Linked DNA regions of Homo sapiens. The protein of the gene in region 5 purifies or fractionates together with the protein of the main gene of each other region. This does not show direct contact. Each region holds a gene or a part of one and is shown on either strand. Other genes may lie near its edges.

Region 1 (4,429 bases), about 17 Mb from region 5:
CCTCCTGAGGAGGTCTGGCTCTGTCAAAGAATCCACACTATAAAGGGAAAGATGGGCTATAAAATCACGTCATTCTGGGAACCTGTGAAACCCCTCATTCAAAGAATTTTCACTTTATGTATTTTTTTTTTTTTAAACTGAGTCTCGCTCTCTATTCCCCAGGCTGGAGTACAGTGGCGTGATCTTGGCTCACTGCAACCTCCGCCTCCCGGTTCAAGCGATTCTCCTGCCTCAGCCTCCGGAGTAGCTGGGATTACAGGCCTGCACCACCACACCCAGCTAATTTTTGTATTTGTAGGAGAGATGGGGTTTTGCCATGTTGGCCAGGCTGGTGTTGAACTCCTGACCACAAGTGATCCACCTGTCTCAGCTTCCCAAAGTGCTGGGATTACAGGCGTGAGCCACCACACCTGGCCCTTTATGTATTTTCGAAGGAGCCTGGAGCTCTGCACGTATAATCAGTCTGTTTCTCCAAATTAGGAGGTTCGAGCAGAGTGTTTGTTACTTGTAGAGAGGAGTTTATTGCATAGGCAAGGTGAGCAGGAGGGCAGAGTGCTCACACCCTTTCTCCTGTCCTGTAGTTGGAGTGGAAGATGTCCCTCTTTCATACAAACCACTTATGGACCTTGGATATTTTCCTGAGATCACAGCAATGTGTCCCAAGGATTTCCCACATGCTTACTGGAGCAGAAGCACTAACTATTGACTAGGAAAAGGAGATTGTCTCCTAAAGTATCCTGTCAGCTGCTTTGGGGTGGATTATAGAAAGAAGTGAAGAGATGGCCACACATCCCTCGGTGCTTGGTGGAACATAGAGCATATATAGAGGGAGAATAGATTTGTCACTTATTTCAATGCCAGAACCAGGTAGGCACAGAATCTTAGTGACTTTCCAAAGGTTAGCCAGAAACTCAGGGAAGAGGTGACTCTAGGATTTTCCTCCTCTTCAGTGTCAAATTAGTACTTTGCCAAGTAAACTACATATTTTCCTAGACACCTGGAACCTCAATTCTTTCTTCTGTTTCTCATGTTGGAAGCCAATTAACTGGGTTTGGCTTAGAGACATTGAGTCATCTCTCTTTCTCAGAGCTACTGGAATATCCTGTCAATTGGCACACATGGTTGTATCTTATACTCATTGGAAATACAGTTACTATGAGTGACAGAACAACACAAAAGTCCATTCTAAAGGCATGTCATAGACCACATGGGTGTAGGATGTCACAAAGAGCTGATAACGATCAGAAACGCCATTCCTTAACTCAAAGCCAAGGTTTTCTCAGTTTATAGGTCTATTAGTCATGCTGCATATTGTTTCAAAATAAAAGCGCACTATGATTTTAGGGAAAACCACATAGTTATCAAAGATGTGACTGGGTTAATTACTCTTATGTAACTGGGACGTCATTTCCATTTGGGAATGGAAGGCTCTGTGAAACTTGGCAATTGTTTAGGTTGGTGGGCCAGAAATTAATTCCTGTTGTGGACTTTTAGAACAAACCTCAGTAAAACACATCAAAGACTAAGTTCAGGCTTCCCAGTGGAGACAAACTAATTGGCAAGATTAAAAACCAAGTCCAGGCATCCTATCACATGCATAATCTATTTGGCCTCATTAGTAGTTGAAATTAAAAATCAGAATTGACCTATATTAATTGCATTTGCATAGTGCTTATAAAAAATGTCAAAGGATTGATGATAGGGCCATGTCAATAAAAAGCTTATGATCTTGGTTAATTAAACAAGAAAAAGAAGTCTTCATTAGAATATTATCACTCTAAGCATATTGGAAAGAAGATCACAGGCCTTAGTTAATACAGCCTAACTCTCTCTACATTTATTTACAAGAAATCTCAAGATGAAAGCAACATTAAGCACCTCTAGTCATCTTAAATGTCAGCTATATAAACATATTAAGTATGCCAAAGCAAACAAGACACGATTTTCCCTTTATATCCTTCAGACTGTTCAAAATTTCCAAAAATGCCTCCATAATTGTCTTTTAAAATCCCTAACTGTATCCCTCTAAATTCCCTCAACAGCCCCTCTAGTTTAAAAGGAAAACAAAGTAAATCAACTTACCTTCCATAAAGCTAAGGTTAAAATGGCGAGAACCAACAATCCAAGAAGTATTGCTAGTATTATTACCCATAATGGGATTGAGAAGGAAACATTCGGAGTTGCCCAAATAACTGATGTCTTAATCTGAAATGGAAAACAAAGCAAATGAGCTCTAATGCGAAAACTATTTGGTGAAATAAAATAGTAATTACCAGTACAACATCGGAAGTTGATCTGAAAGGATCCATATGACAATTGAAATCATCTAGGGGATATTTGAGAGGTAGCACTCGAACATGAACTCTTAAAAGCTAGCATGTTCCTAGATCTGCTTGGTTCTGTAAAAGTCTAATTAGAGATTTGGTGGGTGGGTGGCTTTGCATCACAGAAACCCTAGAATAGAATTGAGTGCATCAGGAATTGACAAGGTGGAAAGGAATGGCCTTCACTTGGGCTGGAACTTTTATGGGAACAATGGCCAAAAGTAGACTCAATAAAAAACTGAATGAATCTGTCTACCATGTGTCTCCTTAGAACTCAGCTAGCCTCATTGAGAGAGGTAAGCTTGTGAACAACCATGAATCCTTGGATGTGCAAGAAGGGTAGAAATCTCTAATCTAATCCCCTCATTTTACAGGTGAGAAAATTAACTCCCAGAGGGACTAAGTGATTCATTCACACAACGAATTAGTGTCAATACTAGGTCTCTTTATCCCTAGATTCTGTGCTGTATCAGTGAAGGATATCCCAGAGCATGAGGCTAGGCATCTTGTATTTTATGGAAGTAACTGTAGTGTGCAAAGTGAATGTTCAATTTTTTTTGATGCGTTGGAGATGACTTTAATCCTAAATCCAAAGATCAGGCCAGAGCGGTGGCTCATGCCTGTAATCCTAGCACTTTGGGAGGCCAAGGTGGGTGGATTGCCTGAGCTCAGGAGGTCGAGACCAGACTTGGCAACATGGTGAAACCCCATCTCCACTAAAGATACAAAAAATTAGCTGGGTGTGGTGGCGCACACCTGTAATCCCAGCTACTCAGGAGGCTGACACACGAAAATTGCTTGAACCTGGGAGGTGGAGGTTGTAGTGAGCCAAGATCATGCCACTGCACTCCAGCCTAGGCAACAGGGTGACACTCTTCTTTCTCCTTCCCGCCAAAAAACAAAAACACAAAAACAAAGATCATATGGGGACTGGAGCCCATTTCATCCCGCACTGTTGCAAGGGGGCTTAGAGGAAAATGAGACCTTCCCAATCTGACTGCATGCTCAGTGTCTATGAACCACTCCCTATGTGGGCAGAAGCACTTCTATTGCTCCTGTGTTGGAGGCCTGTGCCTCCGGAGGCCGAGGCAGCAAAGAAGCTGCAGATTCCCAAGGAGAGACCCAGCCATGCTGCTAAAACCTTTTGTCAAAGAAAAGAGCGCTACATTATTCTTGGATGCAGACATTATTCACTAACGTAGTATTCCGGTTTTATCAGAGTGGCAAGCATTGCCTCCACTCAGCTGGTCTAAGGTCTCCTAGTTTTAATTGTGTTGGTTGAAAGGATCATTTCAATCCTGAAACACACTCAAGAACTCCAGGACACATTCTATAACCCACCCGTCAGGAGAGGCTGAGACTAATGACTAAGGTTGGCGGCTCTGAGATTTGCCCTAGCAGGAAATGTATTGGTGTTTTCACAGCCTGAACCCTAGCACTGAGCCCTAACCATGCTCACTTTGTTGCCTCTGTCTTCTTTTGTGTATTTGTTTCTTTGTTTTTGTGAGACAGTGTCTCACTCTGTTGCCCAGGCTAGAGTGCAATGGCACGATCTTGGCTCACTGCAACTTCCACCTCCCAGGTTCAAGCAATTCTTGTGCCTTAGCCTCCCCAGTAGCTGGGGTTATAGGCATGTGCCACCACACCCAGCTATTTTTTTTTTTGTATTTTTAGTATAGACCTGGTTTCACCATTCTGGCCAGGCTGGTCTAGAACTCCTGACCTCAAGTGATCCACCCGCCTCGGCCTCCCAAAATGCTGGGATTACAGGTGTGAGCCACTGTGCCCAGATGCTTCTGTCTTCTTAACTAGAGTTGAGCGCCCTGATGGTGCCCTTCTCAGCTTGTCTTGGTTTTTTATTGCTCCTTCCTTCTTGATCCGCATCCCCCATGCAGCAGATGCTGATGACTCAATTCATTCGATTCTCCAGCCCCAAATGTCATTTATATGTACACTAATAAAGGCATGGACAGAGGAGTGAGATAGGGAGAGAGTCATTCCACCTTAACAGGAACATGCCAAGGATGTGATAGATGTTCTTCATGAGAAAAAGGCTGGCCTCAACCTAGTCATCATTACATTTTCTTCCTATGCCTGTTAACTTT
Region 2 (4,429 bases), on a different chromosome or scaffold from region 5:
AACAATAGAAAATGAATTCATTCATTTCCATGTCTTCATAGGACTTAACAGCTTACAGCTAGATGGTAGGAGCTAAACAAGTAGTTGTTGGTTTAAATGGGCAAATAAGTGACAGAATTAAAACCTTTTTTAAACCCTTTCTTCTGCCAGGTACAGTAACTCATGCCTATAATCCCAGCACTTAGCGAGGCTGAGGTGGGAAGATCGCTTGAGTTCAGGAGCTCAAGACCAGCCTGGACAACATAGCGAGACTCCATCTCTAAAACAGACTAAAATAAAAAATAGAAAAATTTTCTGGCTGGGCGTAGTGGCTTATGCCTGTAATCCCAACACTTTGGGAGGCTGAGGTGGGTGGATCACCTGAGGTTGGGAGCTCGAGACCAGCCTGACCAACATGGAGACACCCTGTCTCTATTAAAAATACAAAATTAGCTGGGCATGGTGGCGCATGCCTGTAGTCCTAGCTACTTGGGAGGCTGAGGTAGGAGAATTGCTTGAACCCGGGAGGCGGAGGTTGCAGTGAGCCGAGATCATGCCATTGCACTCCGCCTGGGCAACAAGACCGAAACTCCATCTCAAAAAAAAATTAGCCAGGTGTGGTGGCACATGCCTGTAATCCTAGCTGCTTGGGAGGCTGAGGCATGAGAATCGCTTGAACCTGCGAGCCAGAGGTTGCAATGAGCCGTGATCACGCCACTGCACTCCAGCCTGGGTGACTGAGCAAGACTCCATTTCAAAAAAAAAAACCCAACTTTTCTTCATCTAATGCTATACCCAAACTGATTCTTGTGCCTTGTCTTCCAGTATAGTTGAGAAATATATGATAGGCAGTGGCTCATGTCTATAATCCCAACATTTAGGGTGGCCAAGGTGGGGTGATATTGCTTGAGGCCAGGGGTTCAAGACCAGCTTGGGCAACATGGCGAGACCCCCATCTCTACAAAATAAAGTAAAATAAATTAACTGGGTGTGGTGGCATGTGCCTGTAATCCCAGCTACTTGGGAGGCTGAGGTGGGAAGAGCACTTGAGCCTAGGAGTTGCAGGCTGCAGTGAACATGATCATGCGTACCACTGTACTCCAGCCTGGTCAACAGAGTGAGACCTTGTCTCAAAAAAAAAAAAAAAATACATGAGAATTGACTCCCAAATACCTCCCTCTTATATCAATTTAATACTTTGAGTTGCCATAATGCTCAATTTCTAAATCTGATTTTCCCTCCCTTCATCAATCCAGTCTAAGGGAAGCCTGGAGATAACAGAGAGCCAGTCTGCAGATGCTGAACCTCCACCTCCTCCTAAGCCAGACCTGAGCCGTTACACAGGGTTGCGAACACACCTCGGCTTGGCTACTAATGAGGGTAAGGGCTGCCTTGATTTGCAAGATACTAGAACTAGGGGCAGGATTGAGAAGGTTGCTTATGAGCTGTGGAAGACAGGCAAGGGCTGGGAGATATTACTCGTGTTGTGACTTTAAACACCCAACAGTTGGTACTTGTGCTACTTTGCAACTGAAAGAGAAGAGAGGCCATTTAGCTATTGGCAGTGAATGGGACTTTTGCCGGGAAAATGGTCAGCCTCTAGGCAGACCAGAGAACATCACAGAACCTTTTTGGTGCATTTACCCACCCTGAATTCTGGGCTGGTGTGAGTCTTTAAAAGTCTTGATTTCAGCGAAGGGTATATCTATTCCTACCTTGTCCTCTCCCTGTACTTAAGGAACCCTAGGCAGATAAAGTGAACAACTCATAGACTAGACGCAGTGGCTCACACCTGTGATCCCAGCACTTTGGGAGGCCAACGCAGGAGGATTGCTTGAGCCCAGGAGTTCAAGACCACCCTGGGCAACATAGCAAGACTCTGTCTCTACAAAAAATTTAAAAAAGTTAGCTGGGCATGGTGGCATATGCCTGCAGTCCCAGCTACTCAGGAGGCTGAGGTGGGAGCCCAGGAGTTCAAGGCTCCAGTGAGCTATAATCGTGCCACTGCACTCTAGCTTGGACAGTAGAGTGAGACCCTGTCTCTTAAACCAAAAAACCGCTTGTAAAATAGTGCCCCCTTGGCCTTTTTTCTTGCAGATAGTAGCTTATTGGCCAAGGACAGCCCCCCGACACCTACCATGTACAAGTATCGGCCGGGTTACAGTAGCAGCAGTACGTCAGCTGCCATGCCGCATTCCTCCAGCGCCAAGGTACTGAGTACTCTAAGAGGTGGGGTAATAACATGCCAACTGGCCAGGCACAGTGGCTCATTCCTGTAATCCCAGCACTTTGGGAGCCCAAGGTGGGTGGATCACAAGGTCAAGAGATTGAGACCGTCCTGGCCAACATGGTGAAACCCCGTCTCTACTAAAAATACAAAAATTAGGCCAGGCGTGGTGGCTCACGCCTGTAATCCCAGCACTTTGGGAGGCCGAGACTGGTGGATCACAAGGTCAGGAGTTCGAGACCAGCCTGGCTAATGTGGTGAAACCCCATCTCTACTAAAAATACAAAAATTGCCGGGCACAGTGGCTCACGCCTGTAATCCCAGCACTTTGGGAGGCTGAGGCAGGTGAATCACGAGGTCAGGAGATTGAGACCATCCTGGCTAACATGGTGAAACCCCGTCTCTACTAAAAATACAAAAAAATTAGCCAGGCATGGTGGCAGGTGCCTGTAGTCCCAGCTACTCGGGAGGCTGAGCCAGGAGAATGGCGTGAACCCAGGAAGCGGAGCTTGCAGTTAGCCGAGATCATGCCACTGCACTCCAGCCTGGGCAGCAGAGCGAGACCGCATCTCAAAAAAAAAATAAATAAATAAATACAAAAATTATCTGGGCGTGGTGGGGGGGCACCTGTAATCCCAGCTATTCGGGAGGCTGAGGCAGGAGAATCACTTGAATCTGGGAGGTGGAGGTGGCAGTGAGTCGAGATTGCGCCACTGCACTCCAGTCTGGGTGACAGAGTGAGAGTCCATCTCAAAAAAAAAAAAAAAAAATTAGCTGGTAGTGGTATGCATCTGTAGTCCCAGCTACTTGGCAGGCTGAGGCAAGGAGAATCGCTTGAACCTGGGAGGAGAATTGCTTGAACCTGGGAGGTGGAGGCTGCAGTGAGCTGAGCTCCCACTGCTGTATTCCAGTCTGGTGACAGAGTGAGACTACACCTCAAAAAAAAAAAAAAAAAAAAAAAGGCCAAGCACAGTGGCTCAAGCCTGTAATCCCAGCACTTGGGGAGGCTGAGGCAGACGGACCACCCGAGGTCAGGAGTTTGAGACCAGCCTGGCCAACTTGGTGAAACCCTGTCTCTACTAAAAATACAAAAATTAGCTGGGCGTGGTGGCGGGGCGCCTGTAATCCCAGCTACTCGGGAAGCTGAGGCAGGAGAATCGTTTGAACCTGGGAGGCTGAGGTTGCAGTGAGCCAAGATTGCACCATCACGCTCCAGCCTGGGCTTAAAACACACACACACACACACACACACACACACAAACAAATGCCAACTGTTACGGGAAAAAAAGAAGATTAGGGGAAGGAAAAGGCAGAAGAAAGGACATTTCACTAATTGTTGGCATTCGTGGAACTCAATCTCCTTGATACTGTGTCCTTCATCAGACTGGGCAATATAGCATAATAGATTAGTGCTTGATCCGAGTTTATAACCCAGTTCTGCCCACGGGCGAGATACTCAGCCTTTCTACGTCTTGCTTTCTGTATCTGAAAAGGAGATGATATTTGCCTGAATTCAGTTTTTCTTGAGGGATTAACCCAGATAATGCATGTAAGAGTTCTAAGCTTATTATTGGCACATAATTCTCTTTTTGACCAACTCCTTGAGCTCTGGGGTCTAGCTTCTGTCACAAAAGGAGCACTAAGAGCCTGCTTTACTTTCTTCCTCAGTTGAGTCGTGGGGACAGCTTGAAGGAGCCAACCTCAATTGCAGAGAGCAGCCGTCACCCCAGCTACCGCTCAGAGCCCAGCTTGGAACCAGAGAGCTTCCGTTCTCCTACCTTTGGCAAAAGTTTTCACTTCGATCCACTATCCAGTGGCTCACGCTCCTCCAGCCTCAAGTCAGCCCAGGGCACAGGCTTTGAGCTGGGCCAGTTGCAATCCATTCGTTCAGAGGGCACCACCTCCACCTCCTATAAGAGCCTGGCCAACCAGACACGCAATGGAAGCCTATCTTATGACAGCTTGCTCACACCTTCAGACAGCCCTGATTTTGAGTCAGTGCAGGCAGGGCCTGAGCCAGACCCACCTTTAGGCTATACCTCTCCCTTCCTGTCAGCCAGGCTGGCCCAGCAACGGGAAGCTGAGAGGCACCCACGTTTGGTGCCAACTGGCCCAACACACCGAGAGCCCTCACCAGTCCGTTACGACAATCTGTCGCGCCACATTGTGGCCTCTCTCCAGGAACGAGAGAAGTTGCTGCGCCAGTCACCCCCACTCCCGGGC
Region 3 (4,429 bases), on a different chromosome or scaffold from region 5:
ACCATCGTTCTCAGCAAAGTATCCCAAGGACAAAAAACCAAACACTGCATGTTCTCACTCATAGGTGGGAATTGAACAATGAGAACACTTGGACACAGAAACGGGAACATCACACACTGGGGCCTGTTGTGGGGTGGGGGGAGCGGGGAGGGATAGCATTAGCAGATATACCTAATGTAAATGACGAGTTAATGGGTGCAGCACACCAACATGGCACATGTATACGTATGTAACAAACCTGCACGTTGTGCACATGTACCCTAAAACTTAAAGTATAATTAAAAAAAAAAAGAAAAAGAAAAGAAAATAGCCCTGGAATGTATCAGCACTGTCAGCCCTCAAAAATCCAGTATCTCCAACAAACTGGGTGTCACAAGGCTTTCTAGTGAAGTGTTCCACACCTGTTTGTTGTCATCTCTCATTAATGTGTGGCATCTCCTGGGATGCATCTTTCAACCAACCAGCATCCCAGATTTATAGGTCAAAGCAGAGGATCAGAGAACTCATCCCAGGGAGGAATGGCACTTGCAGAAATGGGCAGCCATGACTTTGCTTGACTCTTCTGTCTTCTTGCTAGAGTTGTTTTTTAGCTTCCAGACATGAAATGCATTGGGGCTCAGATGACCGGAATAGGCTAGATCTGTCAGTGATGGTCCAAGGGACTTTTCATTGGTAAATCTGCTGAGACTGCTGAACAAGGCTAGTGATGCCTTGCTTGTGAGCTTCCTAATCTGGCTGCTGTATGACATTGCAATTCTGGGCTTCAGGGCCCCAAACCAGCATATCCAAAGAACCTGAAGCCAATTGTTCTGTCATTCTTTAAAGACCCAACGCATGGGATGGCAGATGCCAGGTGCAGAATATAACCTCCTGTCCATCCCTACAGAACATCATATACTGGAGACAAGAGGGCCCAGCCTACCCAGAACAAGACCCTTTCTCCAGATCACTAACTTTCTTGAGGATCTGAAGTTAAGCCACATGCCTAGACTCTTCCTGGGCCAGCAACCATTTTACTTAGAATGTCAAGGGGAAATCCCCTTGGAAATACTCCAGTACCCATTGCCTAAGGACTATGTGCTTATTCTCTTTTTGACCAATCATTATAATTCCAGAGATTTAGGAAGCCCATTGCTGTATCAAGGACTATAAAATGGTGGTGGCCAAGGTGTCAAGGATCCCAGACCTGCCTAGGACTCTCTGTGCCATTGTCCCTGGAGAGAGAACCCAGTTACTCTCACTTCCAGTGCAGTGGCTCCTGATCTTTGAGTTGTTTGGCTTGTTTTTACATGTGATTATTTCACTTTTAAACATCCAGGAAAGAGGCATCTGCAGAAATAAGGATTTCTTTAATAATTTCTTATGTTGGGCACTTGGAATGTCCTGCCACAGGTACATGCACCATGGAACTGGCAAGTGGGCAGACAGAAAGGACAGGCTGGCAGTGCAGGTTTCCCAGGATCTCATGAGGTAGGGCTGCTGCTGCTGCTGCTGCAATATCTGCTGGCCGGAGGCTTTGCTTCCATTTTAGACATCCCAAACAAAGTCATCTTGGGGGACCTAGCCCCAAACCAATCTTGGTACTTAGATCAGGCTGCCTGACATAACTGAGTCTCATTTTCTGTTTCGGATACTCCCAGGTTCTCATGCTGCTTCCCAGTGCCTCCCCCATTAGATGGTACCTAAAGTAAGAAAGCCATTGACACAGAGAGGAGAGAGGAAGTGAGACGGGTCACAGACAAGTGATGGCCTAGTCTCCCAGCCCCCATCCTGCCATAGCACTGTTGCCCTTCACCCTGCCTTGGGCTCTGACATGCTCCCTTCCCCCCCACCCCCGGCAGACTCTGGATGGGCACATGGTGGTGCGTAGCCATGCCCGTGTGTCGTCGCTGACCCTGAAGAGCATCCAGTACACTGATGCCGGAGAGTACATCTGCACCGCCAGCAACACCATCGGCCAGGACTCCCAGTCCATGTACCTTGAAGTGCAATGTAAGGAATAAATGGGGAAGGACCTGGGGGAGGGAGGGGCAAGGCAGGGTCAGGATGAGAGAGGAAAACATCAGCAAGGACCTATGTGCACCCTGTGTGTTCTGCTTACGTTCCCTGCAGCTGACCCTGGGCTATTTCAGAGCTCTGTTCCCAAGCCACCCCCTACACACCATCTCCAGGCTTCTTACAAGCCTGCTGTGCCCTTGAGTCTTCTTCCCATGCTGTGCACAGGAATTCTAGAATGGCCCTGACCTCTACTATACCAGGCGCTGGCTCTGCTTTGGAGCACACCTGCCTTCCCAGTGCCAGGAGACAGGATATGGGGGCTTCATAATCATGGCAGTCATCCTGACAGTCATTGTTATTTATTGCAGATGCCCCAAAGCTACAGGGCCCTGTGGCTGTGTACACTTGGGAGGGGAACCAGGTGAACATCACCTGCGAGGTATTTGCCTATCCCAGTGCCACGATCTCATGGTTTCGGGATGGCCAGCTGCTGCCAAGCTCCAATTACAGCAATATCAAGATCTACAACACCCCCTCTGCCAGCTATCTGGAGGTGAGTCAGGATGGGGGTGGGACAGAGCAGAGAAAGCACAGTTTGACTCTAGGTGGGCTCCAAAATGCAGCTCAAGTCCTCTCTCCTGCTTCTCTGGCACATCCTGAGCAGGGAAGGCATGGGCTAGAGAAGACACTGAGCCTCTTTTCAGCTCCCCTTCGCCCACTCTACCAGTCCCCTCCCTGAATGTGCCTCTCCCATGAGCCCCTCTGCTATTCTTTTCTCTTGTTTAAGGCTGGGCTGGAGCTAATGATTTATACTTTACTAGTTCTGTTTTTTACTAACTTAATTCAGTAAATAAAGATCTGAGTCTGTGACCATCCCATAGGACACTTGTAACCCAATAGCTTCTTCCTTCTAAAGGTGACCCCAGACTCTGAGAATGATTTTGGGAACTACAACTGTACTGCAGTGAACCGCATTGGGCAGGAGTCCTTGGAATTCATCCTTGTTCAAGCAGGTGAGTGTCCCTTACTCACCTGAGAGCAGCTGCCACAACCCCCCACCTAACCCTGCCAGCCCAATTTGTGTACTTGAGTGATTCCAGGATATTGGGAAGAAGAAAGGGCCAGGGTCAGCAAAGCCAGAGAGTTGGGAAGCTGGGAGCCATTGGATCAGCGCATGGGGCATGTTGGGGGAGAAGCATCTGGTGAGATGGGCCAGGAGGACAGGATACAGTGACAGGATTCCCAAGAGTGAGCAGAAATGACAGAGATGTGCCTTGTGACTGAGAGTTAATGGTCTTGGGCCAAACTGGGCTCACCTGAGTCTCCATATGTGTCTTCCCCACAGACACCCCCTCTTCACCATCCATCGACCAGGTGGAGCCATACTCCAGCACAGCCCAGGTGCAGTTTGATGAACCAGAGGCCACAGGTGGGGTGCCCATCCTCAAATACAAAGCTGAGTGGAGAGCAGTTGGTGAAGAAGTATGGCATTCCAAGTGGTATGATGCCAAGGAAGGTGAGTTGGGCGAGTTGGTGTTTCCATTGGGATCATGAGTGCCTCAGTACTCAGATGTCCCCACCTGCCATCCTGGGCATGTTCCTACAGAATCAGGAACTGCACCTCCAGAATTAGGTCAAAGTCATATCTGCCTGTAGAGTTGTTGCCCCTATTGCCACCCCAACCCATGCTCTGTGCTTCAGAGCCTGGTTCTCATGACCCTTCCAGTATGGATGAAGGCATCTGTACCACATTCCAGGCAGGAACCTTGTGTAGGTTCTGAGCGCAGCCAGATGAGTCCAGCCCATAGGTTCTGAGCATGGCCAGATGAGTCTAATCCATCCTACTCTGCACGTTTGAGTTACCTGTGCTGCAGGTTCTCTGCCGACACCCGGCCAGTCCTGCTTGGATATCTGTACTCAGGGACTGGCTGTCTTGTAATTGTGATAGTAACCAAATAAGCACAGCCAGCAGGACAAGTCTGCCCTTAAATCAGTCCTGTGCTAGCTTTCCAAGCTAAAGATTAAAAGACTGACCCTTGGATTACTGCAGTGTGAAGATTCTGAGCCCAGATCATCTGAGGATAATGTGTGCTTATGTTGGACTCCCCTTTTTGGGTTTAATTGGAATAACTCAGTGAAGTATGTTTTGTTTCTGTACAAATTTTTAATCCTGGTCTCGTATGTGGTAATTCGAGTGGAATTGGAAGTAGGCTGGGATATCAGTATCACAGCCATTCAGAGACATAGTCCAGTGCAGTTTCACTCAGAATTAGTTCTGCCAGAAAGTTTCCATCACTTCTTCAGCTTCTCGGGGGAGCCAGGGGGCCGAGAGGAGCTGCTGGGTAATCAGGATTGGAGCCAGAAGAAAGCAATCACTTTGCCTTCCTAACTTCCCTCTGAAATCTCATACCAATTTTGTGGCAGGTTGATC
Region 4 (4,429 bases), on a different chromosome or scaffold from region 5:
CTCCTTATAATCAAGATGATTTCACTCTCATAGGTGCAAAAGCTGGCTTCTACATCACCTGCAAAAGGCTCCCTTAACCTCAGGATCCAGTGAATTTCTTATCTCAGTATCCCTGGCTCTCCAATTCTTAAATCGGCCACATGACCAGTTGTTTGAAAATTCTGTATGTAGTGTAAACCGAGATTCAACATATAAGAGTGTATTAAAATATAGCCTAAATGACAAATTTCGAAATATATACCCAGACAAATAATAAAAAAAAAACCCTGAACACAAACAGACTCTAAAGCCACTACATTAGACTAATGAAATCATGCCCCAAAACCCAATATTGTGTCTTTTGCAGGCATATGGTTATACTTTTTATGCCAATATTGCCAAATGAAGAAAAAAAACCTTAACACAGACTTTCACAAAATAACAGCTCCTTACAATAACAGACACAAATGCACAAGCAGCAAACACGAACCTCAGCAGCCCCATCAGCAGCTTTCTTCAGGCCCCATCCATCATTGGCCCAATCATCAACTATTCTTCGATCAGCACAAATGATAAAGTTGTCAAAAAAAATGTCAGAGGTCATGGACCACAGCTCCAAACCAATAGCACTAAAAGGAGTCATTCTGAAAGGTTCCAGATCTTCAAAGAAATCTGGATTTGGTATTTTCCTGGGTTTCCAGATTCCCTAGAAAAAAAAATGTTTCAGAAAATCATTTCAGATAATGATCAACAAAAGTTTATGGTGAATCTACCGTAAGAGAAATTTTGCATGAACAATGGAGAGAAATGCCAACTTCATGAAACTTGAAATAAGCAACAGGAAAATAAATAACAAATGCTACAGATTATTTTACGCACTCTGCCTCTAAGACTGCAGGATTCCAACTACTTCCAATTTCTACTGTCACCCATGACCTTGGTCCAAACCAACCCCTCAAGTTCCTGGCCCATTCAACAGCCTCCACTCTTAGCAACTGCTAATGAGAGTGGGAGCATAAGTCAGTACGTACTTCTTCAGTGGTGATTTAAAATAAAACGCACATGATCATCAACCAGCAATTCACTTCTAGATAACTACCTAGAGAAATACTCACAACATACACCCAGACATGTACAAGGATTATTACAGCAGCAGTGACTCTGAAAGCAAAAGTGACAATCCACCTAAATGGCCACCAACAGGAGAACAACTAAAGGGCAACTTCTTTTTCACTGTAACTTCTGCCTCCTGTGTTCAAGTGATCCTTGTGCCTCAGCCTCGTGCCTAAGCAGCTGGGACTACAGGTGTGTGCCACCATACCAGGCCAATTTTTGTGCTTTTAGTAGAGATGGTGTTTCACTATGTTGGCCAGGCTGGTCTCGAATGGCTGACCTCAGGTGATCCACCCACCTCAGCCTCTCAAGTGCTGGGATTATAGGCGTGAGCCACTACGCCCAGCCTAAAGGGCAACTTTTTTAAAGTAAAACTTTTATCTTATTGTTTGACTACACAATTAAAAATACATTCACATAACATCTTTAACGACTATGAGGAAAAAAATAAAAAATTTACAAACAGAAAAACATATATTAGTATATGTATATATACATATACTATGCCAAGATCCTGCTGAAATGTTTTCACAGTATCAGACCAGCTTCTCCTGTTTCTGTATATGTATATACATATATTAGTATTTGTATATAAATAAAGTAGAAATTAATGATTATAAATAATTTTAATTGCCACTCTTTGTAGAGATTATAAATAATTTTACTTGGCTAGAAAGATAAAAGGAACAAAGGTCTGAGGGTGTACATTTTTGCATGAGGCCTAAAGCCTCACAACCTTACTACTTGTATCCTTACCATCTCTTTTGGGCCTCAGTCTTTTTATAGTTGCAAGCATTGAGGCCAAGCAGTGAGCTGACTTGATGTAGTCAAGATGCTGACTCAAACCACAGTCCTCTACCCACCACATCACAGATTGTCCAGACTCAGCTGTGGATCCTATGGCTGAAGCAACCCTAGCACCCAAGAGCAGGGTACCCAAATCAACAGTTTTCCATTTCTCTTTTGTTTTTAAATATAGTTACAAAGCAACTATGAAAGTTATTCTTGGCTGGGCACAGTGGCTCCCGCCTGAAACCCCAGGACTTCGAAAGGCGAAGGCAGGTGGATCACCTGAGGTCAGGAGTTCGAGACCAGCCTGGCCAACATGGCGAAGCCCCGTCTCTACTAAAAATACAAAAAATCAGCCAGGTGAGGTGAGCACACCTGTGAGCACACCTGTGCTCCCAGCTACTCGGGAGGCTGAGTCAGGAGAATTGCTTGAACCCAGGAGGTGGAGGTGGCAGTGTGCCGAGACTGAGCCATTGCACTCCAGCCTGGCCACTAGAGTGAGACTCAGTCTCAAAAAAAGAAAGTTGACCAGATGCAGTGGCTCACGCCTGTAATCCCAGCACTTTAGGAGGTTGAGGTGGGCGGATCGCGAGGTCAGGAGTTCGAGACCAGCCTGGCCAACATGGTGAAACACCATCTCTGCTAAAAATATAAAAATTAGCCAGGCGTGGTGGCAGGCACCTGTAATCCCAGCTACTCGGGAGTCTGAGGCAAGAGAATCGCTTGAAACCGGAAGGCAGAGGTTGCAGTGAGGCGACATCACACCACTGCCCTCCAGCCTGGGTAGAAGAGCGAAACTCCATCTCAAAAATAAATAAATAAATAAATAAATAAATAAAGTTAAAGAAAGTTATTCACTCCAGTTTCTAGGTTTATCTTTGCAATACCTAACCCATTAAGCTCTCTTTCAACTTAGGAAGTCTACTTTCTGCTTTTAATTCAACAGCTTGAATATAATGACCAACCTGGCAGCCTTACTCTAGATAAAACTTCTATCTGAATACAAACAGATTAATGAAAGCAACTCAACCATCAAGAGGCACAAACCTGGTAACTGGGATTGTCAATCATAGGAGGCTTCCATTTGCCTTTATAATTGGGGTTGTCAATCACAGGTCGCTGCCAGACACCACATCCAGGAGCTGACTCACATCTAGGGTTGGCAATCTGAGGAGCCTCCCATTCTCCATCCATGTCTTCATCCCTACGGAGGTACAAACAACAAATTATAAACAGGTTCTGTGATGCAGGACTATGAACAGCTGGCTGGCCCAGGGCTGCCAAGATCCTGCTGAAATGTTTTCACAGTATCCCAGACCAGCTTCTCCTGTATTTCCAGTAATAACAGTTTTTCAGGAAAAATTTATTTTTTAAAAAAGAAGAAAATATAATTAAAATTGTCAAATTCTACCCTGAAATTAGGGAACTTGGCTATATTTAAGTATTAAGATTGACTTCAATAAAAACAGGTAACTTATGCTGGGTGTGGTGGCTCACGCCTGTAATCCCAGCACTTTGGGAGGCCAAGGCAGACAGATCACTTGAGGTCAGGACTTTGAGACCAGCCTGGCCAACACGGTGAAAGTCCGTCTCTACTAAAAATACAAAAAATACAAAAATTTGCCGGGTGTGGTGGCACACACCTGTAATCCCAGCTACTCGCAAGGCTGATGGAGGAGAATCACTTGAACCCAGGAGGTGAAAGTTGCAGTGAGCCGAAACTGCGCCACTGAACTCCAGCCTGGGAGACAGAGTGAGACTCCATCTCAAAAAAAAAAACAAACAAAAAAACCAGGTAATTAAAAAAAGTTAACTGAAGTTCTTACCAATCCTCAGGTTTCTCTGCGTCTGGATCAGGTACGTACTCAGGCTCATCATCTAACCAGCCTTCGGGTTTTGTGGCCTCTTCATCTGGAATCTTAGCAGGGGCATCTTCATCCCTTAAATACAAAAGAAAAAGCCAGTTATGACAACACTGGTCACAGTATAGTACCACTTTGTGGATCAGAACAGAGTATTCTAAAAAAATTTGTTTTTAATCTCAAAATTTAAAATAATTCCTCTTAGAAAATACTTGTAAATCATATATCTGCTAAGGGCCTAGTAAAATAACTCTTTACAACTCAATAATATAAAGACAACCCAATTTAAAAATGGGCAAATGATTTTAATAGACATTTCTCCAAAGAAGACATACGAATGTAAAAATATACAATATGAACATACAATAAGCACACGAAAAGATGCTTAACATCATTAGCCATCAGGGAAATGGCAAATCAAAACGATACCACTTAGTACCAAGTTGGCTCTAATAAAAAAGACTCATAAAAACAAATGCTGGAAAGAACGCAGAGAAACTGAAACCCTCATACACTGCTGGTGGGAAAGTAAAATGGTACTGCTCATTTGGAAAACAGTTTGGCAGTTTCTCAAAAAGTTAGTTACCACATGACCCAGCAATTCCACTTTTAGGTATATATACCCAAGAGAAATGAAAATATATATCTATAGCTAGACAGAGTGGCTCATGCCTGTAATCTCAGCA
Region 5 (4,429 bases):
ATTTTGTTCTAGAAAATTGATTGCTCTCACATGAGAGAAACGCTACCTTAACAATTTGTTGAATATACTTCTTTCATGGCTATAAAATCTTTTATTTTAAAGAGTAATCACTTTAAGAAAAAAAGGCAGGAAGGAACTTTCTATAAATATCACACACAAGATCATCAAACTGATCTTGTGGTGAGCAACCGTGGTTGGAAAAAATAATTTGCTCCAAATAGAGAGATATTCTCTGGATGTCCCAAAATATGACCTGCCTATACTCTCTAAACCAATGTAGCTCTGTCACTGTCTGACAACACCCAGCTTACCTGCACGCGCCACACTCAAATGTCCCATTTCCTTCATGACACTTGGGACTTTCAGGGATGCCTTCGCTTTGGCATTCACATTCACAGATGTACTGAAGAATAACCTCTACTTCCTCCGTAAAGCCCAGAGGCCTAATTTTAAAGCTGTCAGAATCCTTTTTTGGACACTTATTTGAAGTTATGCTAATTTCAAATTGAACCTTGAAGGGAAAAAAAAGATTAACAACCAACTAAACAATTTAAATCTACTAAAAAATATTTCAAAAAGTTGCTCACTTATTTTAATGTTTCTCAAACTATAAACTAAATTTGCTTATAAATAACCAATGTTTTCTACAGAAAATGCTTTATACAACATACCTCATCTCCAATGGAAATATTGGAACATTTTCTTCCATTTTCCCCTGTTCCATTCACCCCGTTCTTGCAGTAAGATTTGTAACTTATTGTTACGCCTTCTGACAATTTGCCGTTTTCCAAAATGACTTCTGAGGAAAGGGACTAAAAGAATGCCTAATTATACACAGGAAAAGTCAAACAAAATGCTACTTGAATGCATAAAACCAATGGATAAACTGCTCAGAAAAAAATATATTTCAATAAAGTATCTACAAGCCAAATCCAATTGAGTAACTAGAAAACACAGAGGCCAGAGAAACAGGTTTTAATTAATAAGGATCAAATCTTTAAAATAAAATACACAATTGAAAAGAGTATTCCTGTTTTAATCACTGAGTTAAAATACTCAGGATCACACAGTGCAGAGGGCTGTTACTAATTAGGAGGAGTCTTAAAAATGTGGAATAGGCCGGGTGTGGTAGCTCACACCTGTAATCCCAGCACTTTGGGAGGCCAAGGTAGGTGGACTGCCTGAGCTCAGGAGTTGGAGACCAGCCTGGCCAACACAGTGAAACCCCATCTCCGCTAAAATACAAAAAAAAAAAAAAATTTATCCAAGCATGGCAGTGTGCACCTGTAATCCCAGCTACTCGGGAGGCTGAGACAGAAGAATCGCCTGAACCCGGGAGGCAGGGGTTGCAGTGAGCCAAGATCACACCACTGCACTCCAGCCTGAGCAACAGAGTGCGACTCCATCTAAAAAACAAAAACAAAAACAAAAACAGAAACCCCCCAAAAAAAAACGAAATAAATGCTGTCTTCCCCATCGGCAAAATGGCATTTCTGTAGTCCTACCTCTCCAGCTAACTATGGACTAGGGTAAACAATCAACTATGCAGTCTAGGAACAAATTTGCTTAAGGAACCATTGTAGCCCAGCCAAAAAAAAAAAAAAACAAAATCCCCCAAGAAGGAAGGATTCAAGCCAGGGCTTGTTTAACATATGAGACTATTCAGGACAAATGGAGAAGGGTACAATGGCAAGCTATCTCTTGTTCACACCCCTGAAAGAACAAGAGTTAGGAAAATTATCTAAGACAGGGGAGAATGGGAAAAGCTGTGGAACAAGTAAAATATTAAAAACCTTTATAAAAACCCCTCCAAGTCAGGCCTTTCCAAACCATTATGGTACCCCATAAAAAAGGGAAGCCTCATATGGTAGGCTGGCCTTTCCAAAGCGTTATGGTACCCCCATGACATGAAGTAAAAATGTCTAAAATTCAAGCTGCCAAAGGGTTAGGGGGATGGGGGCTGAAAGTGGTGCACGAGACACACAAGGGTTACCTACCAAATTACAACCGCCTTCAGATTATTTAAATGATTATTAATGAAGGCTAACTCGGTGTGATTAAAGTACACTGAATTATGCTCAAAAAGGATAAGCCAATTCCTCTTTAATTTCAATTCAACTTCCTCCCATCTGTGAGGGGAAAACAACACTATAAATCTTTTTGAAATAGGCAAATCACATGTATATTTACATTTTTATATATTTTATGGTATACGTATATATGAGTGTGTACCTCCTGAAATAGAAACCCATATCCTCTGAATATATGGGAAGAGAAGAATTGGCAAAAAAAAAAACTTTTCTAGCACAATTCATCAGAATAGATGACTCTATAAAGGATATTTTGGGGAGGAAAAAGATTGGAGAAATCCTGTAAGTTTAAATGTAAGTTATGTTTTACAATTGCTTTCTAACAAGGAGATCTATTCCTTAATGATAAACAAACAGTTATTTGGAAATACTCCCCACATGCCTTTATCACATTTTCACTTTGTTTAGGCCATGAATCTTGCTTTTGTAAGACAATATGTATAAAGTTTTTCCTCTAGATACATACAGAATTTAAGTTTTTCTGTAGTACTTTGGGCTCGCTAAAGTGTGTATGAAGGAAGTTTTACTTTCTTTGTACAAAGTATTCTCAACAGGGTATTGTCCAAAACTGATCTTATTTAAGATGTACTCACATTGTATGCATCAATGATCAACTGAATTACATTGCTAGAATTTGCAGATAATGTTCCTACTGCTGACTTAGGGATCAAGTTTTTCAGCTCCTGCAATTAAAAGATAAAACACGTAAAATACAACTGCTATTCATTCAACCAATTAGGATCCACTGAGCAACTTTTATCTTTAAATGCCAGTTCCCATGTTTCCTCCTAACTAACTTTAGGAGTCAAACCTAGAAACCAGTTTTATAATATGTGATTAAAAATTAATATAAACCACTTTTGTAAAATTCGGTTTGCCTATCTGGTGGCATTTTCCCACATTTCAATTCAGACATGATTTGCCTCTAACAATCAAAAATGTTTAGAATCTTGTTCTTTTTATCTCACACATTTACCTTGTAAACAGGCTGAAATTCTTCAGTAACTGCAAAAATTGTCTGAATATTATTTTCACTCAGTTTCTGGACAAGGTGAGCAATAGAAGGATAATCCTAAGAAATCAAGTAATATAATTTAGTATTTAAATACACCCTTATAATCTCTTCTAATTTTTCAATCTAGTTATACATGCAAGATTACACATAACTCGATTACAAGACTGCTTTAGATAACTAGATTACATATATAATCCATATATAGCTAGATTACATCTAGTTGCATACATATAACTAGATTACAAGACTGCTTTCAAATAACAGTATCAAATATAAACTGCTGAAGTGAGTCGTGTGTATACATGAATTGCTAATCCTCTTCTCTTTACTTTCATGTATGAATAAAAAATTCCATATTCAAAAGGTTTTAAATAGTAAGTTTATCTATGTATATTAAATATAAGGACAATGAAATTAAAGAATAGTCAGTAATTAAATATTCTATTATCTACAACTTAAGAAAAAGACCAAGATTTACCATTTGGATTTCTTCTAGAACTTGAATGCTTTGCCAATATTTATTTTCAATAAAGGCAGAGTGACTGCTTTTAAAAATCGTATAAAACAAAGAGTATGAGACTAGATAAATTATTTATTTAGAAAGAGTACTGACTGTGCTACCAAATGCTGTGGGCGGGGAGTTGAGGCAAAGAGTGAAAGTGGCATCTGGGCATCCCTTTCCCACCCCAGTGAGGCCCTTGTCTGAGCAGAAGGAAGCAAATACAAAGCTGCATCTTCACAAACAGCAACACTAGCTTTCCTGCACTTTCAATCAGGACCCCTACTTACCAAAACAGCAAAACCTCAAACCCTGAGAAACCCCAAGCCAGTCACCCACAAGCTCTTAGTATTAAACATTAAAATCCAACATAAACACATTCACTATGTAAGGAACCAGGCACTTACATAATAATGGCTCATTGTGTACATATTATTTTCCAGGTGACATTGTCCATCATTTGGTAAAACAATGCCACCAAGTTTCCCATCTCCAGCAAAGTGAAACCCGGCATCTGTGGAAAACACCAGCAGCCGTGTAACATTCCTCCAGCCAATCAGTGACTTGAAAAGAAAAGGATTTCAATTTTAAAACACTATTCACAGTAATTCAACAAAAATCCTTTAATTTTCATATAGGCCACCATTGTATTTTTAACCTAATTCTGTATTTTCTGTGTCTTCTCTTTATACAATGGTAATTATCTTGCTGAGAAACACACAAAGCCCACTGAATGAAGCTCTTCCATCCCATGTACAACGATATCTTGCCTGACCATCCGTATCTCTCAATCTCTCAGTTCTTTTTAAAAACTGTTTTTTTGTT
Region 6 (4,429 bases), on a different chromosome or scaffold from region 5:
AGTCACTGGCATAGATCTTCACAGAAGCTGTAATTATTGTTCTAAAAGAGCCGTATGGATTTTCTTTCTAAAGTTGTGGACCAACTTCAGACATGTCACAGCTGCACTAATTTTCACAAATAGCTACAAATAAATTAATTTTTAAGAGTAATATACATAAGTGAATTTAAAGGTAAAATAAAATATTTAGATGGCTGTATAATAAATTGTAAAAAATATTTCAAGCATGTTATTAGCTTTGGAAGGAAAAAGTTAGGTAAGAAGATCAAATGGGATGGACAAAACAAGAAGAAGGAAAGAAAGCACATCATGGGCAAAAGTGGAGAAAGCGGGAACACAAGCCATTTCATTTAAGGTATTAGTCCAGGCAGTGAGTCATTGCCAAGCCTAGCACGGTTTCAGCCAAGAGGCTGCCTGAGGAAGGATGAGGACAGTCATCCTCATGAAATAGAAAAGGATTGAAATCTACTATTCAGGGGCATTAGATGGTACTGGCTCTGAAGCTTCTCTAGAAGTAGAGCCCTCAGAAAGAAAAAAAACAACAGCAAACTGGGCTACAATTAGAGAGCTGTGTGTGTTCTAATCTGCCATCAGCAAGCAGAAAGACCTTAAACAAATCAGTTAGCCTCTCGTGTCTCCTTCATAAATTGAGGTTGGGGGCCAAATGACCTTTAAGATTCTTTCCAGCTTTAATCTTATGACTCTATGCTATCTTATTGGCCAAGGAGAGAAGGGATAGGGGAAGCGAGGAAAGGAGGAAGGAAGAGTGGTCTCAGAAGGGAAAAAAGGAGGTCCATGAGGAACAGGTGCCAGAAGGAAGAGCAAGTCACATCCTGGAGTTGGTCTGTTAAGATGCAGGCTGCCCTGTACCCTGTAGCAAGACGGGATAAAAAGGTCCCCTACCATCCACTAGTAATTTCACTTGAGAAGGTCAATTGCAAATAAGTCACTTCCAGGGAAAATTACATTTTGTGATACGTAAAAGCCCATTTCATTTTTAATGATTTTACACTGATTTCAACAAGTTCTCTATTGTCCAGCAGGATATTTATAACCTTACCCTTCCACTCACTCTCTACAGAGACCTATTCAGCCTTGGAATGCAGCAATACATTTCACTTTGAAGTTTGAGTTCAACTTTGAAATTTTCAACCACCATCCTTTTAGAAAATTATATATACATAGATATCAAAATATTAAGAGAGACATAAATATACACAGACACATGAAGACACATGTATGTATATATATGTGCACATATTATGTTCCAAATTTAATGTAGGTGTGGCAAACATTAACGCAGTCAGTCTGCTTTTTCAGTGCCTCAGAAACTTCTCCCAAAGTAAAGTCCTCAGAAAAAAAAAAAAAAAAGGAAGATCACTGTATTGATTGCAGTACTATAATCTTAAAGTCTCCTATGCTCTCTACAGCCTCCAAACCACACAACAATCTTTTAGGCTCTGATTCTAGGGCTAATTCCTGACCTGAGGCATTGACTTCATTTTGACATTTTATTTGCCTGTTATCCATTATGTCTGCCCTGTATTTTAATATATATGCCCATATGAGTTTAATAAACATTAAATCAGTCAAATGTATTTAATTAAATGTAATTAAATTAAACTCAGTATCTAAAGTGGAAAAGCTGTGTGAGAAGTTCCACTTCATTTAGTGGCAATAAAGGAGATGTGTTTAGAAATAGATATTAATTGGGGGGATAAACAAACAACTATTTGATTTTATGCAGAGATAGCCAGGGGCATTTTCTTTTAACTTAGGGAAAAGAAATTATTAACAGAAAGGACAACAGGCTTTAAGTAGTATCCTCTGGTCAGTTACTAACTTATTTGTATAATATGAGAGGAGAGATTATAATGTGATGGGTTGTTTGGGATGTCAGATTAGTTTTTACAAACTCTGACACCCGGCTCTGACATTACCAAAAGTGGCTATATCCATTTTAAGTAAAAATTAAACTATGAGTTTATAGAACTCTATAGGAGTTATTTTTCAAGTGCATTAAAAATGGCAGCTTTCATAATATTTTCTGTTTAGAAAATAACACAGCCTAGGTTGGGCACAGTGGCTCACGCCTGTAATACCAATGCTTTGAGAGGCAGAGACAGGTGTATCAACCAGAGGCTAGGAGTTTGAGACCAGCCTGGCCAACATGATGAAACCCCATCTCTATTACAAATTTAAAAAATTAGCCAGGTGTGATGGCGCATGCCTGTAATTCCAGCTTCTGGAGAGGCTGAGAAATATGAATTGCTTGAGCCTGGGAGGTGAAGGTTGCAGTGAGCTGAGATTGCACCACTGCACTCCAGCCTGGGCAACAGAGTGAGACTCTGTCTAAAAAAGAAAAAGAAAAAAGAAAAAAGAAAAAAATAGAAAATAACACAGCTTAAAGTAATGTCCTTTTTATCAGAAATAAGAACAGGAAATGGATATAAAATTCATTCTCAACTTTAGTTTTATTGATTAATTTGCTTTCAGAATATTTGGTTTTATTAAAAATTTGTGCATTTTTATCTTTAGAACAACAGAAATCAAAACACAAAGTCACATACCTGTGTCTGTTTAGGACCAATATCCATTCTTTCAAGAAGGTCATTTAAAAAAGCTGTAACACTGTCCCATGGGTAAATACTGTTGGAACCATCCAGCACTATGACTATGTCCAGTTGAGTGCTGCATTCTGCAATAAAAGGAGTCAATTGTCAAATTTGGAATCTATTTTTTTCAGAGGCATATGAAGTGCTTTCATGGCTGAAAGAAGTTCATTTTAAAAGATGAACTGATGTTCTCCAAAGTAGACACATTGTTTTAGCAATAAAAAATAGTTTTCGAAAAAGTAAAGATGATAAAAATATTCATTGCTTTCAATAACAATTGGTGTGGGATAAAATTCATACCTACTGAATTTTAATTAGTATTGTATGAGAGTTATCTTTGCAAATTTTCTCAATATGAATTTTATATAAGTTTTTATAAAACAGTTTTTGAGCATATCTCAAATGAAGTTACTTCTTTCTTCAAAGAGACTCATTCTTTAAATATAAGCAGCATGACAGCTTTATCTATGATGTTTAAAAATGACTTTGTAAAGTTATTTACACTAATATCAATTCCAAAAATAGCAGTCAGATTTTGTTATATACTGGCAAAGCAAACATTTACCTAAATTGGTAATGCTGGTAGCTAAGAAAATACTTTAAGCTTTTTGGTATGTTCCTTTGTATACATACGTCTCATTCATTGCATAGGCTTTTCAAACATGCAAGAACATTGCATAAAATCTGTACCTTGTACAGGGGCAATGGAATTCACGACTTGAAATGTGGGGCTGACGTCAGAACAGATTCCAGTTGTGTAATGCAAATGTCCACATCTATAGGCATATAAGGGCCCACAAGCCTTTAAAAAATTGTTTTAAAATTAGAAATCATTAGACTGAAAATTATATAACAGATCTTACAAAGACTTAAAATGATAGCATATCTGTTGTCAATAAATATCATTCTCTCCATTCTTACCAGAAATCCTCCATTTGGGTTGGTGACTAAAGTTGATCCAAATGTCATGTTCTCCTTTACTTCTGTGACATTGGGAATTGATGTATTAACTAAAAATAGAACAAAATTTTATGAGGGAGGAAAAGTTTCACAAAGTGAAATTTTAAGCATCTCTCATTAAGACATTCTATTTGTTTTGCTCATATCATAGCACATTCTTCTTTTGGTTCAACTAATTAGTCTTCCAAGTCTTCTTAAGGAATATAATGAACAAGCTAAGGCTGAAGAGTTGGCTCATGTCCCAGAAACTATTTCAGATAGTTTTGCTGAACTGTGAAAGAATGCAGAACTAGCAGGGCAATGAGAATGTGGGATTGCTTTTTGCACGTTCTTGCTAATTAAAGCAAAGTTTTTAATCTCATAATACTGTAGATATAATGTAATCTTATAACTTTGTTATAAATGACCAGTGATGAAACACGATTTTTGGCAAGAAAAGGGGAAATGGGTAGAAGATCAGAAAAGAAAACTCAAACACCAGTTTTTTGACCATGACTTCCAAAATCATGAGGACATCCTTTGGGTGACAAAGGAAACTAGAGGAATATTAGAGCAGTGTCCAGAAAGTTTTGATAAAGGAAACACAGTAAAGAGACTGCATTTGACATTCTGAAGGGAATGTTGGGTCCTGAAGCATGAAGCATGCCAGCCTAACAATATTGGCAAGAAGTTTCACTTTCTCACACTAAAAAAGAAAAAAAGACTGGACAGGAAAAACAAGAACTTCTAAATCTGCTTAGTAGAGTGGAATATTAGAAAGAGGCAAAATTCAGGTTGAGAAAGATTTGTCTCACTGTTTGTTCCAGAGGTTGTTTTCATGTTAAGACTGTATGTGGATTTAAAGTGGGGAATGG
Region 7 (3,591 bases), on a different chromosome or scaffold from region 5:
GGGAGAGGGGGCAGTCATGATTAGTTCTTTGTTCTTTACTTGGTTGCAGGACACTTAGGACTTTGCCCAGTACCCAAGGAAGCCATGCTTGGGTCAGGAAGAGAGTCTCTGTAAAGCCTTAGACTGGGAGTCAGGAGACGGGTTTGAGTCTAACTCATTGTTGCTACCGCTTTAGGCTCCTCCTGAATCTGCACAATAGGACAAATACTTCCTTTGTACCTAACTCCTAGATCATAGATAACAGGCTTTGAAAATGATGGGTTGCCATGTATAAGGGACAAGAGCACTAACACTTCTTAGTTTCAGGGTAAAAACTTCCAAAGTTGGAAAACTCCTATGCCTAAGGCTTTGGAAGGGAAAGTCTATGTTTCTCTTCTTTCCTCAGCCTTATTCCTAAGGCTTTGAGAGCTTTTCAGGTGCCCTGGAAGGCAGCCTTATGCTCCAGCCTTGGGAGGTAGTATAGCTGAGCACTTAAGCAAGCTCTGGACTCAGACAATTCTGGGCTTCAATCTCAGATTTGTGACCCTGGGCTTTACCTCTGTTTTTGTATCTGTAACGTGGAAACAGTCTTCAGAAGAACAGGAAGAACTAAATGAGATAACATGTACAGTTCTTACTACACAAAAAGCTCATAGTACTTAATAGTAGCTTTTTTTTTTTTTTTGAGGTGGAATCTCACTCTGTTGGCTAGGCTGGAGTGCAGTGGCACAATCTCGACTCACTGCAACCTCCACCTCCTAGGTTCAAGCAATTCTCAGCCTCAGCCTCCTGAGTAGCTGGGATTACAGGCACATACCACCACATCTGGCTAATTTTTTGTATTTTTAGTAGAGACGGGTTTCACCATATTGGCCAGGCTGGTCTTAAACTCCTGGCCTCATGTGATCCGCCTGCCTTGGCCTCCCAAAGTGTGATTACAGGCGTGAGCCACCACACTTGGCCCAATAGTAGCTTATTCTAATCCCAGCTCTGCCACTGACTTGCTATGGCACTGCTGTTCCTTAAGTATCTCTCATCTAATGGGATCAGTTATCTGTGTTCACCAAACAGAACTAAGCGCAAGACTGAATTTTAAAATTCCCATGCAAAGGCTTTGAAAGATACAGTCCTCCACTTCCCCATACCCAGGCCTGAGAGTTATTCATTGAGTTTCTTGTACACTGCTTCTCTACCCCAGCTCATATACTCATAACCTTCCCCCTACCCTCAGGTGTGGGTTTTGCTACCAGGCAGGTGGCCAGCATGACCAAGCCTACCACAATCATCGAAAAGAATGGGGACATTCTCACCCTAAAAACACACAGCACCTTCAAGAACACAGAGATCAGCTTTAAGTTGGGGGTGGAGTTCGATGAGACAACAGCAGATGACAGGAAGGTCAAGGTAAGTCAGGGAAACAGGGGTGGGGAATGGAGAGTGCTGAGACTCTAAAAGAGAATAGGCTGGTAGTCTTGGCTCCCTGGTATTGCACCCTGAGGGGCAGACTATCATGGGGAATTTAAATGAAACAAGATTCATAAAGCCTGTGTAGTGCTGGAATGCCACTGATGCTAAATACATGTCAGTTCTGTCCTCTTGTTTTCTTCCCTCCCTTCTTGGGATTCATCTATTGTCTGCCTCGGAATGGGCAGCACAGAGCCAGGATGTTCTTCTGACCTCAGTATCTACTCCAGCTCCAGCTGGGTGACCCTGTGCAAGGTATGCAGTAGCTCTAGGTTTCTTTCCCCTTCCATAGATGGCAGAGTTATGTGGCCATGGCTGTGACCTGAAGTGCTTTAGGAATGATGCCCAGAAGTCAGGGCCCTCCACTGAGTGAGGTCATTGTGACCTCCAGCAGCAAAAAAGGCAGCCAGGAACTAGAAGCACCTACTCAGATGCCGCTTCAACTTCTAACTCCCAGACATGGCCAATGACCCTGACAAACTATTTCCAGTGTTGCCAGCTGACAGGCAGGAAGAGCTATGTTCCGTGATAGGGCATTCACCTTGTCATGAATGTGTTTGCAGTGTCTTCCCACCAAGCCTTAGCCCCTCCTCCCAGGGTTCTATCACCCTGCAGTGGCTGTCTTGGCAGCTTGCCTCAGCCTTCCAGGCCAGGCATGGGAGCGAGAGAACTTAAGGGCTTTGACCTCTATAGGGTGTCCCTATAGCAGTGTTCTATCATGACACTATCATTCAGCCCCATCAGCTGTTTCCTCTTCCTCATAGCTGTCCCCAGAAAGAACAGGATCACACAGGTGGCTGGCAGCAGAGCTGGGGATGGTGCCCAAAGATGGCAGTCTACCTTGGATAAAGGTGGCTGCCCCACCACCTGCTCATACCTCCTTGGACTTGCCTACTTTCTCAAGGGGCAAGAACCCCAATTAAACACAATAGCCCTGTGGAATGCCTAGGGCAAAAATATCTACTCTGAGTAGGCAAAAAAAACTAGGGGAATGAGAACAAGGAGTAAGGTAAGGATAAAAAAGAGCACACTAAGAGACAGGCCTCATACCCCTTATCACCTAAACAATACACAGAACCTTCTCAGATTCTCCTACTGAACCACCTTGCTCATCAGGATCCCTTAGCCTGGCCTTGTGGCCCCCAAACTCCTAGGAAAGAGAGCTGGAAGAGCTGCCAAATGAGAACCAGCTGATGTATGTATGCTGGCAGCACCCAGAGCTGAGGAACCACTTCAAGGGCATCCAGTCACAGGACTTTGTGGTTGCTGCCCTCTTGTTGGCTAAAGAGGTCACATGATGTGGACCAAGAAAAGGTGTAGGAATACAGGGCAGGAAGTCTAATTATCCAATACTTCCTATCACTAAGGGTCTTTTAGACATTATGTGGACTAACCACAAGGCTGGATAAAGATTCTCAGGACTACTCCTCCTCCTCAGTCAGTCTTTCCCAGGGATAGACTAGTAAATCCCACCTGTATCTGAGGGGACCAGGCTACGGGAATCACCTAGAGTACAGATAAGTGTCTGTCTTGAAGGCTTGTGGTACTTCTCAGAGCCAGGCTCTCTGGCTCCACCATACTGCCTGCCTCTCCCTCCTTGCCTAATATCTGAAGGCCTCTTCCCCAGAAAGGCAGTAGTGGAGCAGAGGCTGGAGGTGAACTAGATGTCTTGCAGGGATAGCTGGGAGGCGGATTGCCTGAGCTCTTGTCCTCACACCATCACTAGTTTGGGTCAAAGGCTGTGTGCTCTGTGGCCCAGTGTCCAGACCCCACCCTGCCCCTCAATTCCTGACTAAGATCACAGCTCAGGCCTCTACCCTCTTTCCACAGTCCATTGTGACACTGGATGGAGGGAAACTTGTTCACCTGCAGAAATGGGACGGGCAAGAGACCACACTTGTGCGGGAGCTAATTGATGGAAAACTCATCCTGGTAAGATGGGCAACTTTGGAGCTATATCTGATTGGTTATTACTACTGCTCTTTCAGCCAAGCCTGTTCTAAAAAGCCAAGTCCTCCCCTGAGAGCTGTAGAAGCTGGGACAAGAGAGTGGTTGTGGGTCAGGGTGGTATCAGGTGGGAATTTTCTGTGTAGTGGCTTTGGACTCACACAGGCCGGAACTCAAATCTTACCTTATAGGCTACATGAC

What was found.
Region 1: the proteins of ITGB1 (region 5) and ITGA8 purify together in Homo sapiens (affinity purification with western blotting; 2 studies listed by BioGRID and IntAct, with this or other methods). This does not show direct contact.
Region 2: the proteins of ITGB1 (region 5) and ZDHHC5 purify together in Homo sapiens (co-immunoprecipitation; one large-scale study listed by IntAct). This does not show direct contact.
Region 3: the proteins of ITGB1 (region 5) and NCAM1 purify together in Homo sapiens (affinity purification with western blotting; one study listed by BioGRID). This does not show direct contact.
Region 4: the proteins of ITGB1 (region 5) and CANX purify together in Homo sapiens (affinity purification with mass spectrometry; 3 studies listed by BioGRID and IntAct, with this or other methods). This does not show direct contact.
Region 6: the proteins of ITGB1 (region 5) and ITGA1 purify together in Homo sapiens (affinity purification with western blotting; 2 studies listed by BioGRID). This does not show direct contact.
Region 7: the proteins of ITGB1 (region 5) and FABP3 purify together in Homo sapiens (co-immunoprecipitation; one study listed by IntAct). This does not show direct contact.

What each region holds. Positions count from the first base shown.
Region 1 is NC_000010.11:15,517,208-15,521,636, forward strand, and holds part of ITGA8 (integrin alpha-8 isoform 1 preproprotein), read right to left. Parts: intron 2,206-4,429; coding exon 2,083-2,205; intron 38-2,082; coding exon 1-37. UniProt on the Homo sapiens protein: Integrin alpha-8/beta-1 functions in the genesis of kidney and probably of other organs by regulating the recruitment of mesenchymal cells into epithelial structures.
Region 2 is NC_000011.10:57,694,685-57,699,113, forward strand, and holds part of ZDHHC5 (palmitoyltransferase ZDHHC5), read left to right. Parts: intron 1-1,235; coding exon 1,236-1,359; intron 1,360-2,076; coding exon 2,077-2,189; intron 2,190-3,874; coding exon 3,875-4,429. UniProt on the Homo sapiens protein: Palmitoyltransferase that catalyzes the addition of palmitate onto various protein substrates such as CTNND2, CD36, GSDMD, NLRP3, NOD1, NOD2, STAT3 and S1PR1 thus plays a role in various biological processes including cell adhesion, inflammation, fatty acid uptake, bacterial sensing or cardiac functions.
Region 3 is NC_000011.10:113,229,804-113,234,232, forward strand, and holds part of NCAM1 (neural cell adhesion molecule 1 isoform 2 precursor), read left to right. Parts: intron 1-1,392; coding exon of another isoform or gene 1,393-1,470; intron 1,471-1,841; coding exon 1,842-1,992; intron 1,993-2,366; coding exon 2,367-2,551; intron 2,552-2,914; coding exon 2,915-3,011; intron 3,012-3,343; coding exon 3,344-3,514; intron 3,515-4,429.
Region 4 is NC_000005.10:179,719,060-179,723,488, reverse strand, and holds part of CANX (calnexin isoform d precursor), read right to left. Parts: intron 3,822-4,429; coding exon 3,708-3,821; intron 3,086-3,707; coding exon 2,929-3,085; intron 686-2,928; coding exon 470-685; intron 1-469. UniProt on the Homo sapiens protein: Calcium-binding protein that interacts with newly synthesized monoglucosylated glycoproteins in the endoplasmic reticulum. It may act in assisting protein assembly and/or in the retention within the ER of unassembled protein subunits.
Region 5 is NC_000010.11:32,919,574-32,924,002, forward strand, and holds part of ITGB1 (integrin beta-1 isoform 1A precursor), read right to left. Parts: intron 4,168-4,429; coding exon 4,012-4,167; intron 3,163-4,011; coding exon 3,067-3,162; intron 2,774-3,066; coding exon 2,684-2,773; intron 813-2,683; coding exon 672-812; intron 512-671; coding exon 312-511; intron 1-311.
Region 6 is NC_000005.10:52,863,959-52,868,387, reverse strand, and holds part of ITGA1 (integrin alpha-1 precursor), read right to left. Parts: intron 3,626-4,429; coding exon 3,537-3,625; intron 3,418-3,536; coding exon 3,306-3,417; intron 2,699-3,305; coding exon 2,571-2,698; intron 1-2,570. UniProt on the Homo sapiens protein: Integrin alpha-1/beta-1 is a receptor for laminin and collagen. It recognizes the proline-hydroxylated sequence G-F-P-G-E-R in collagen. Involved in anchorage-dependent, negative regulation of EGF-stimulated cell growth.
Region 7 is NC_000001.11:31,367,177-31,370,767, reverse strand, and holds part of FABP3 (fatty acid-binding protein, heart), read left to right. Parts: intron 1-1,177; coding exon of another isoform or gene 1,178-1,210; coding exon 1,211-1,383; intron 1,384-3,273; coding exon 3,274-3,375; intron 3,376-3,591. UniProt on the Homo sapiens protein: FABPs are thought to play a role in the intracellular transport of long-chain fatty acids and their acyl-CoA esters.